Homo sapiens: one gene and its partners. The protein of the gene in region 3 purifies or fractionates together with the protein of the main gene of each other region. This does not show direct contact. Each region holds a gene or a part of one and is shown on either strand. Other genes may lie near its edges.

Region 1 (3,654 bases), on a different chromosome or scaffold from region 3:
GCTGGAAACTAAACGACCTTCACTTGATAAGACCTCTTGTGAGACCAGTCAGTGCAGAGTCAGCCAGTGATAATTGTTCTCTTTAAGGGGAGGCACATGTTTGGGGTACAGTGAACGTAGGTTGGAGCCTTAGTTTGAGCATTGGGAAAGTCAGTGGAATCAAAAGTCTGGTTCAAGTCCCTGCCCTGCCTTTTCTTCACTGAGTAACTTTGAGAAAGTTGTTTTACTTTTCTAAGCCTCATTTTTCTAATCTTTAAGTTAATGTCTAAAGTCCCTTTCAGCTATAGAATTGTCTTAGTGATCTTAGCCCTATGGTAAAAGATTCCAGTATAATTTAAGAATTTGGCCAAATGGTGTTTGTTTGTTTTTGTTTTTTTTTTTTTGTTTTTGTTTTTTTGAGGCAGGTTTTCCCTCTGTTGCCCAGGCTGGAGTGCAGTGACCCGATCTTGGCTCACTGCAACCTCTGCCTGCCAGGTTCAAGTGATTTTTGTGCCTCAGACTCCTGAGTAGCTGGGACCACAGGGATGCAGCACCATACCCAGCTAATTTTTGTATTTTTTGGTAGAGATGGGGTTTCACTATGTTGGCCAGGGTGGTCTCGAACTCCTGACCTCAAGTTATCCACCTGCCTCGGCCTCCCAAAGTGTTGGTATTACAGGTGTGAGCCACTGCACCTGGCCAAAAAAGTTTATTAGTACATGCGATTTTAAAACACCAGTCATATGAAATTATATCCCCTTAAATCACTGTGTCTAGGTTATACTGTGTCTAGGTTATACAACCTTATTGTTGAATTTTATTACCCAAACACTTGTTTTTTTGAGACCGAGTCTTGCTCTGTTGTCCAGGCTGCAGTGCAGTGGCATGATCACAGCTCACTGCCTCAACCTCCTGGGCTCAATCAGTCCTCTCACCTTAGCCTTCTTTGTATATGGGATTACCGGTGTGCCCTACCATGCCCAGGTAATTTTGATATTTTTTTTTTTTTGTAGAGACAGGGTTTCACCTTGTTTCCCAGGCTGGTCTTGAACTCAAGCAATCTACCCACCTTAGCCTCCCAAAGTGCTGATTATAGACATAAGCCACTGTACCACTTACCTTATTTAGAGCATTCTTCCTAAGGTCCTCCAGGTACTTTTCATTAGCTCTTTTTCCTGCCTGAAATACTCTTTCCCCGGAACTTATAACTGGCTCCTTTGGCTGTTCTAGTCTCTTAAGAGAGGCTGTTCCTGATCACCCAATCTAAAGTGAACACCATGTTTGCTTCTGTCATAATTCCTTATTTTAATTTTATTGTAGCATGTACTACTGCATGGTATGACATTTTATTTCTAGTCTTTTTTTTTTTTTTTTTTTTTTTTTTTTTTTGAGACAGGGTCTTACTTCTACATCCTCGAACTGGGCTCCACTTTTTTCATTATTAAATTGTATCTGGCATATGGCAGCAAGAACAGAAATGTCAGTTTCTGCTTGACTTTGGTATTGGGGCTTCTGATGGGGAAAAAAATTGAAACAAGGAAGTGAGGAGACTTCAGTGTAAATTTAGCTTGTCATTTCTCAGGAATCTTACGTATGTCATTTGTTACCTAGTCTTTTACAAATTAATAAAATGATTGCTGTTAGGATCTTGATTGATGATATCAAAACATGTTAATACCACACTTTTAATAGAAAATGTGGTAAATTATTGTGGTATAAAAAATGCAGGCCAGGTGCGGTGGCTCATGCCTGTAATCCTAGCACTTTGTGAGGCCGAGGTGGGCGGATCACCTGAGGTCAGGAGTTCGAGACCAGCCTGACCAACATGGAGAAACCTGTCTCTACTAAAAATAAAAAATTAGCCAGGCATGGTGACGCATGCCTGTAATCCCAGCTACTCGGGATGCTGAGGCAGGAGAATCGCTTGAACCTGGGAGGCAGAGGTTGCAGTGAGCCGAGATCGCGCCATTGCACTCTAGCCTGGGCAACAAGAGTGAAACTTCACCTCAAAAAATAAAATAAAATGCAAAAGGTACAAAAGAATATAGTAGTAAAAAGTAAATCCATATTTTTCATCCAGTCCCATTTATCAAAGGTAACTCTTGCCAGTTTTTGTGAATCCTTTCTAGAACTATTCTCTGCATCTATATAAGCACATTTTTTCCTTACTTTGCATAAATAAGACTGTTATATAGACAGCACATGCCTATATACCTTCGTCTTTTTTAATGACTGTATATCATTCCATCATAGGTGAACTCTGATGTATTTAGCATTTAGCTTGTTTCTCCCTTTTGCTATTACCATAAGGCTGGAGTACCCATCTTTTAAACCTTGCACGTGTTTTTGTACACATGTGGGAATAAATTTGTAGGATAAATTCCGCAAAGTGGAATTGTTGGTCTTGAAAATAATTGCATTTAAAATTTTGATATATATTAGTGGATAGATTTTTAAATCCTTAATATACCTCCAGTGGAAACTAAAACAAAGATATTATTTTAACTTACAAATCAAATAAGTATTTAAACTATGTTGGCATCATAAAATAAGGCTCCTGATAACATTTATGATGATTTAATAAATATTCCAGATATTGATTATAAAATTGTTTCTGTTGTAAATTAATAAACTTTTCATTTATGGAACACTGATGGTAGAAATCTACATTATTGGAAAACCAGTTGTCTTAGTCCATTTTCTGCTGCTATAACAATACTTGAGACTGGGTAATTTATAAAGAAAAAAATTTATTTGGTTCATGGTTCTGGAGGCTGAGAAGGGTGAGGGCCTTCTTGCTGTGTTATCCCATGGCAGAAGGCGAGGGTGAGAGAGAAAGCAAGAAAGGGTCGAACATGCCTTTTTTTTTTTTTCTAAAGGGACAGGGTCAGGTGCAGTGGTTCATGCCCATAATCCCAGCACTTTGGGAAGCTGAGGCTGGAGGATTTCATGAGACCAGGAGTTAGAGGCTGCAGCAAGCTATGATCATACCACTGCAATCCAGCCTGGGTGACAGAGCAAGACCCCATCTCAAAAAATAAGGAGTCGGGCCGGGCATGGTGGCTCATCCCTGTAATCCCAGTACTTTGGGAGGCTGAAGCAGGCAGATCACTTAAAGTCAAGAGTTCGAGATGAGCCTGGTCAGTATGGTGAAACCCTGTCTCTACTAAAAATACAAAAAAATATAGCTGGGCTTGGTGGCATACGCCTGTAGTTCTAGCTACTTGGGAGGCTGGGGTGGGAGAATTGCTTGAACCTGGGAGGTGGAGGTTGCAATGAGTCGAGATCGCGCCATTGCACTCCAGCCTGGGCCTCACAGTGAGACTCCATCTCAAAAACAACAACAACAACAACAACAAAAGGAGTCTTGCTACTATCTTACCCATGCTGGACTTGAACTCCCAGGCTCAAGGGATCCTCCCACTTACACCTGTAGCTGGGATTACAGGTGTACCCAGATGAACTCACATTTAAAACCAACCCACTCCTGCAATAAGGAACCCAGTCTTACCATAATGACGTTAATCCATTCATGGAGGGCAGATCCCAGATGACCCAGTCATCTCTTGATGGTCCCACCTCCCAACATTGTTGCATTGGAGATTGTTTCCAACACATGAAGATTAGGGACATATTCAAACCATAGCATCAGTTAAACCTGTCAGCTACAAATTC
Region 2 (3,654 bases), on a different chromosome or scaffold from region 3:
GTGTTCTTATTGCAGCCTATCAAGTAACATAATTTCAGTTTGCCCCATTATCAATAATGTTAATTTAGACCCCTTGACTAAGGTGGCGTCTGCCAGATTTCTCTACTACAAAGATACTCTTTCTCTCTTTGTAACAAATTAAATATTTTGAGGATAAGTATTTTAAAATTAGTATTAGCATCCTCTTTTTTTTTTAATTTTCTTTTTTTGATTCAGATGGGAGTCTCACTATGTCACCCAGGATGGCTGGAGTACAGTGGGCAGCACAATCATAGCTCATTGCAGGCTCCACATCCTGGGCTCAAGCGATCCTCCTGCTTCAGCCTCCTGAACAGGTGGGACTATTGGGCTTTTTTTTTTTTTGGAGGGATGGGGTCTCATTATGTTGCCCAGGTTGATCTCAAACTCTTGGCCTCAAGCAGTCCTCCCACCTCAGCCTCCCAAAGTGTTGGGATTACAGGTGTGAGCCACTGTGCCCAGACTAATGTTAGCATCCTTTGATGTTCCTTAGCTGAATTAAATATTACTATGATGATTCTCAAATGGTAATTTTTCTAATTCTATCATTCAGCAAATTATTGCATCAAAAAGCTTTCTTTTCTACCCATTTATTAATTCACTTATTTATATCAGTTTGCACTCATGGATTTTCATTTTATTCAGGTGACTATCATCTATTACTATCATTATTTACTTTGAAGTTCAAACTGCCCAGGCAGGAGTCCTTGCAAGCTGACTCTGTGTCCTTTGAAATATGTTCCCATCATTCTTTCAGCACTTCTTTACTTTCTGGCACAATAATATGTTCCAAGCTCATCTTATACTTTCTCTCCTCCCGCCCTAGAATTGGCCACTGCTCTGAGCTCTGGGTCCTTTCAGTGCATAACTGTATTTAGAAAATAAGACCTAGCTTCTAAGTGTGCTAATTACTAAGGAGTGGCAATGTTTCCAGGTCCTCTCAGTGGACATAGCTAGAGAATATGTACACACAAACACGCATGCACACATCCACATTTACATCTATATCTATTTCTAGGTCTATCAATACATTTTAAAAACCATGAGTTCACACCAGTACCTCCAATTCCATTCTACCACCACAAACTTTTCTTCCTTTTCACATAGGTAACTCCCTTTTCCGGCAGTGAGAATCCTGTGTCCCTTTATCATCAACATATGTACTCACAGGCATACCTTACTTTATTGCACTTTGCTTTACTGCACTTCACATATATTGTGTTTTCTTATAAATAGAAGGTTTTAGCAACCCCGAGACAAGCAACTCTATCAGTGCCATTTTTCTTTTTTCTGAAAAATCTTTATTGCTTCTGCTGATTACACAACAAATGTAAAAATTCAAATATTACACTTTTTTAAAAAAAAGTACATTATAACATGTCATTAAATAAATGCCCATTTCAAAAAAATTCAAGTATCATAAAATACATGATTTAGAAAATGAGTCCTCTGTAATCCAGTCCCACCCCCATGTCCCCCAGGATTACTGCTGTTCAGATCAGCGTTTCCTTCCAGATTGTCTCTGCGCACTCACCACCTGCACTGCTGACATGAGCTCCATATTATCTGAGATGATAGTAACTCTGATAAATGGAGCAGGAGCAGGGTTCAGCTGCCAGTGCACTGAACAGCTTCCAGTTTCTACACAGAAACACTTTCTTCATAAAAGCTTGAAACTACAACATCCTTTTGCACTATGTAAATGTATCAAGTTGAATCATGAAATTAACGATCGCTCACCATTTTTGGCCTAGAAAAACGGCAGTTTCATGTGGTTCGACATAATAGCTATGGCCCTATTCATAGACATTGGGAGGTTTCCTACTTTTTGCCATTATAAACAATTCAGCAGGCCAGGTGCGGTGGCTCACGCTTGTAATCCCAGCACTTTGGGTGGCCAAAGCAGGCAGATCACTTGAGGTCAGGAGTTCAAGACCAGCCTGGCCAACATGGCAAAACCTCATCTCTGCTAAAAATACAAAAATTAGTCAGCCATGGTGGCGGACACCTGTAATCCCAGCTACTTGGTAGGCTGAGGCAGGAGAATCACTTGAACCCAGGAGGCAGAGGTCGCAGTGAGCCGAGATCGCGCCACTGCACTCCAGCCAGGAGACACAGTGAGACCCTGTCTCAAAAAAAAAAAAGAAAAAAATTCAGCAGTGAATGTCCTTTTATGTTCTTTATGGAGTACAAACATCTTACCCCCAAAGCATGACACCTCTCTTTTGGGCATTTAGAACAGTCAAGAAGGATGGAGCTGCCCATTTGCCATGGAAATGGAGAGCCAGCAGACAGCTGATGCATAAACAACTTGTCCCTCAAACAAGAGTGGCTAACTTCAGCCATGACACCGTTTTAGTATGGTGACCACACCACATGAGCAAACCAAATACTGGTAAAACCAGAGAACAGAAGAATTCCTCAGCTCAGGACAATTCTTATCCCTACTGACGACTCACAAGACATCCAGTGAGTACCCCAAAGTTGTCCTCTGGAAGTTGGGCTGTCAGAAGGTACAAAAAATGATTCAGGCCAGGCACGGAGGCCCACGCCTGTAATCCCAGCACTTTGGTAGGCCGAGGCAGGTGGATCACCTGAGGTCAGGAGTTCGAGACCAGGCCGACCAACATGGCGAAACCCTGTCTCTACTAAAAATACAAAAATTAGCCAGGCATGGTGGCACATACCTGTAATCCTAGCTACTTGGGAGGTTGAGGCAGGAGAATCACTTGAACCCGGGAGGCGGAGGTTGCAGTGAGCCAGGATCACACTACTACACTCCAGCCTGGGCAACGAAAGTGAAACTCCACCTACAAAAAACAAACAAACAAACAATGATTCAGAAATGTACTGAAATCAGATTTGCCGGAAATATTTTTTAAGGTTTTTTCCAGGAGCTACTGGAGTGACCAAAAAAAAAAAAAGGCACCTGTTAAAATTATGCCCACGACAGGCCTCGAACAAAGACGAGAATATGGTGTGTATATGTCACTGGCGCTTTCACACAGGCCACTTCCTCTTCAACCTTGTCTGGGGTTTGTAGATTCTGTTCAGGTCATAGCTGGTTTTGTGGGTGGTTTTCTTATGGCAGACAACACTAATTTTAGGTTCTCTGAGGTAGAAAGCAGGCCATAAAAATATTCCCAGTCCACTTCTCTTCCATCTTGTTCTTTAACTGCTTCCACCAGTGTAGGAATGATGGTGCGTTTTTGTTTCCACTATGTGATCCAGGTTCCAGGTCCAGAAGAGGAGCCTGCTCTCCCTGTTACTGTAGGGGTTGATGGAGTATCTTGACAAGCAGCCGTCCATGTCGAAGGGACCCTGGCAGGAGAACTAGCCTTCCGGTGTGCAGAGACGGCTGCCACCCTTGGCTCCTCTGTTGTATAGCTGCCGTCGTACTGCACAGACTGGAGCTTCTGGCACATGGAGCGGAGGACCCGCAGGAATTCCTCCTGAGCCTCTGCACCCACCATGGAGGAGCAGGAGCTCACCTCTCTCAGGTAACTCCGGATCCGGCTTTCACAGCTGTATCTCAGATAGCCAGACTTATTCCAAAATCGGGACTCCAAGCCTTCAAACCACAGCGGGTCCTCAGCCCGGGTGTCGGCTGCGACGTTCTGGCTGACGTTGTACAGG
Region 3 (3,654 bases):
TAAAATCTTATCTCCTCCACAAGATACATAACTACTTGTAGGAAAAAGTGTTGTAGGAGTTCAGAGGAGGGAGAAATCAAAGTCTTATTAGCTTATAAGGAATGGTTTCAGGGAACGGACTGACCTTTGAACTAACATTTGAAAAATAGGCACCAGTTAGAGAGAGGGCATTTCAGACATAGGGTGTGGCATAAAAAAAAGAACAGACACAAAAAAGCACATGGTCCAAGGAACAGGGAACAATATAGGGTGACTGGAGGGACAGGGTATTTGTAGAGAAACAGTTTACAATATGGCTAGCAATCTAGTTAGGTGGAAATTTTTAAGGCTAAGATATAAAGCCCACTGAAGTTTATGCAGGGAAGTGATGGGATAAAAGTCATGCCTTAGGAAGAATAATCTAGATGTGCTGTATAGGATGGATTGAAAGGGCAAGTCCCTGAAAGCAGGGACAAAACCCATGCATAAAGTAATAAGGGTCTAAAACTAGGGCAGAAGTTAAGGGACTGAAAAGGACAGAAGAGGCCATTGCTACTACAAAGAAATGTTCATCTACCTAACCGGATTACTGTGAAGACCAAATGACATTAAATAAAGACTTGAAAAGTATCTTTACTCACTAGTGGCAAATCCTACAAGGGAGTCAAGAGAGCACAGATGAGGACTTCAGGGAGATGGATTTCAGGAAAGGAAGGAGAAAATCAAAACAACAAAAATATCACATTTTGCAGGTAACTATATATACCTATTAACATTACTAAAATCTTAAGTAATTAAAAGACCTAATTTTGGTCAAGACTGAGCACCAAGAAAAAAAATGCTCACAAGTAAAAACAGAATTTAAAATTATCCCAATAATGTAAAAATTATGTACATGAAAGAACAGAGATTCAAAGGAAAAAGGAAAAATTATTTAACATGTGGGATTGTAGATATCTGTCTTGACGTTTTTATTAGATGTGGTTTTGTATAATTAAAATGGGGACAATGTAAAGCATAAGAATCGTATACAGAATGGGCAATTTTATCTCTTATTATATACCTTATTTTACAATATGGGAAAGAACATACTTTTCTTTGAAAAAGCAAAATCTTTAAGATAACACTGACAACAATACAGCAATAAATGATATTAATTTTATAACAATTGTATAACAATAATTAAATGATCAATTATGCATTTATCATTTAATCAAAATTTTGATGTAAGTTTCCACTCTATTTCTACCCCGCTGCCCAGTGACAAGTGCTCTTTATCTTGCCACTGGCTACTCAGGAACACCATTAGAAACCCACCAGCCAGCAATATTGTATTAATCAGGGATTACTGACTGGAAGAGGGGATAGGTTTCTGATTCCCCTGAAATTGCATGCAAAATGAAGCACATACGTATGTATATTTTTCTAGGGAGAAGGTCTATGGCTTTGATCAGATTCTCAAAGGGCCTCGTGTTCTAAAAGAAAGTTTAGAAACATGAAATTTTCTTCCTCTTCCTAATAATCTTAATAACTAGTTAAAACCAATGTGTCAATGACTTAGAGAATGTTATTTATTCAACTATATCTGAAAAAAGAATCCCCTGAATTCCTCTTCTCAAGTCCCAGTGCCACTTTCCATTCCTTACCATATACAGCCCATGTAAGGTATATCTTTATTTACAACTTTTATAGCATTACTGTTATTCTTCACCACCCCTTAGAATCTATTTCTACCATCCCAGATGATTTCGGAACCTAGCTTACTTTTTCCTCCACACTACTTCCATCCTCCCAACACTACCAAATACTAAGCTCATAATTAAATTACATTTTTCTATTCCTACTCTTAGATATACAAATATGACAAGAACAATACAAATTTGTCCCATTAAAAATTCATGTGAACATAAACTTACCCTATGTTGCTCCTGAATACTACACCAGTAGTAAACTAGGATCACAAAGTAGAGGTACTATATAAAAAGGGCTGGTCCTAAAGGATTACAGTAAAGAAACAAGAGAGTTGCAAGAAACCTTAGAGATCTGGTAGTCAAATATTACTAGTTTACAGGATCTGATGTCCAAAAGAACAAGTTATGTGTCCAAGATAATTAACAGTACAAATAGAGCTCAGGCGGTCAAGTGTCCTGGTCCAGTGTTCATCCCACAATACCAAGTTATGCCCTTTGCACACCAGTTATTTCATTATTTTTAACATTTAGAAATAAAAATCTTTTAAGTCATCTGTATTTTCTTTACAGTAAGGCTTACTCCTACCTCAAGACCTCTTAATAGTATTCAATATCATTCCTTCCAAGCTTACTGTGTGAGAACAATGTAGGGGACAATTAAAAGCCGTGTTGAAATCAAGATAGACTGTCACTCACTCATATGAATAATTGGTTTGGTATGTCTTGCTCTTTTCAAAACCAAGCTGGCTGCTTCCTAACAGCTCGTATTTTTCTAATGACAGCAAATTATTGTTTAATAATTTTAAAAGTCTTTATTGGTCTCCTAATAAAAGGACTATGCTTTTAACATTTGTGTCCCCCTAAAATTCCTATATTGAAACTTAATCACCAATGTGATGGTATTAAAAGGTGGAGTCATTGGGAGGTGATTAGGACTTGGAGAGTAGAGCTCTCATAAACAGGATTAGTTCCCTTATAAGAGGGGCCAAAGAGCTGCCTTGTCTCTTCTACCACATGAGGACACAGCTAAAAGGCACCGCCTATGAACCTCAAGACCTCACCAGACACTAAATCTGTCAGCACCTTGAACTGTGAGAAATAAATTGCTCTTGCTTATAAGTCATGTAGTTTATGGTATTTTGTTATACCAGCCCAAACAGACTAAGATAGACTATTAGTCTAAGAAATTATTTCTCATATGCACATTAAATCCCTCTTCCTGCAAATGAAGTCCACATCTTTGTATCATAACCTAATGTTCCAGTTAAGTTTAGGCATCACTGAACTACAAATAACCCCTTCAGGTCCTTTTTTTTTTTTCTTTTTTTTGAGAGGAAGTCTCGCTCTGTCGCCCAGGCTGGAGTACAGTGGCGCGATCTCGGCTCACTGCAACCTCCGCCTCCAGGGTTCAAGCAATTCTCCTGTCTCAGTCTCCTGAGTAGCTGTAGTCACAGGTGCACGTGACCATGCCCAGCTGCTTTTTGTATTTTTAGTATGGACGGGGTTTCACCATATTGGTCAGGCTGGTCTCGAGCTCTTGACCTCAGGTGATCCACCTGCCTTGGCCTCCTAAAGTGTTAGGATTACAGGCATGAGCCACTGGGCCAGGCCGCTTCAGGTACTTTAAATGTCACTGAATCACCTCTCACCCTTTTCAGTTCCATGATCTATAATCCACTTAAAGACACCCTTATTTCTCTTGTAAGTTCTGTTTTTGTTGTTGTTGTTTGTTTGTTTGCTTGTTTTTGAGACGGAGTCTTGCTCTGTCGCCCAGGCTGGAGTGCACTGGCGCGATCTTAGCTCACTGCAAGCTCCGCCTCCCGGGTTCACGCCATTCTCCTGCCTCAGCCTCCCGAATAGCTGGGACTACAGGAGCCCGCCACCATGCCCGGCTAATTTTTTTTGTATTTTTAGTACAGACGAGGTTTCACCATGTTAGCCAGGATGAATAAGTTCTGTTTTCTATTCTTTTAGTATATTTTGG

Evidence for each region.
Region 1: the proteins of ABCB7 (region 3) and ATP6V1D fractionate together in Homo sapiens (co-fractionation; one large-scale study listed by BioGRID). This does not show direct contact.
Region 2: the proteins of ABCB7 (region 3) and NDUFB6 fractionate together in Homo sapiens (co-fractionation; one large-scale study listed by BioGRID). This does not show direct contact.

Annotation. Positions count from the first base shown.
Region 1 is NC_000014.9:67,353,164-67,356,817, reverse strand, and holds part of ATP6V1D (V-type proton ATPase subunit D), read left to right. Parts: intron 1-3,654. UniProt on the Homo sapiens protein: Subunit of the V1 complex of vacuolar(H+)-ATPase (V-ATPase), a multisubunit enzyme composed of a peripheral complex (V1) that hydrolyzes ATP and a membrane integral complex (V0) that translocates protons.
Region 2 is NC_000009.12:32,563,142-32,566,795, forward strand, and holds part of NDUFB6 (NADH dehydrogenase [ubiquinone] 1 beta subcomplex subunit 6), read right to left. Parts: exon of another isoform or gene 3,250-3,654; intron 2,488-3,249; exon of another isoform or gene 2,256-2,487; intron 1-2,255.
Region 3 is NC_000023.11:75,149,679-75,153,332, forward strand, and holds part of ABCB7 (iron-sulfur clusters transporter ABCB7, mitochondrial), read right to left. Parts: intron 1-3,654. UniProt on the Homo sapiens protein: Exports glutathione-coordinated iron-sulfur clusters such as [2Fe-2S]-(GS)4 cluster from the mitochondria to the cytosol in an ATP-dependent manner allowing the assembly of the cytosolic iron-sulfur (Fe/S) cluster-containing proteins and participates in iron homeostasis.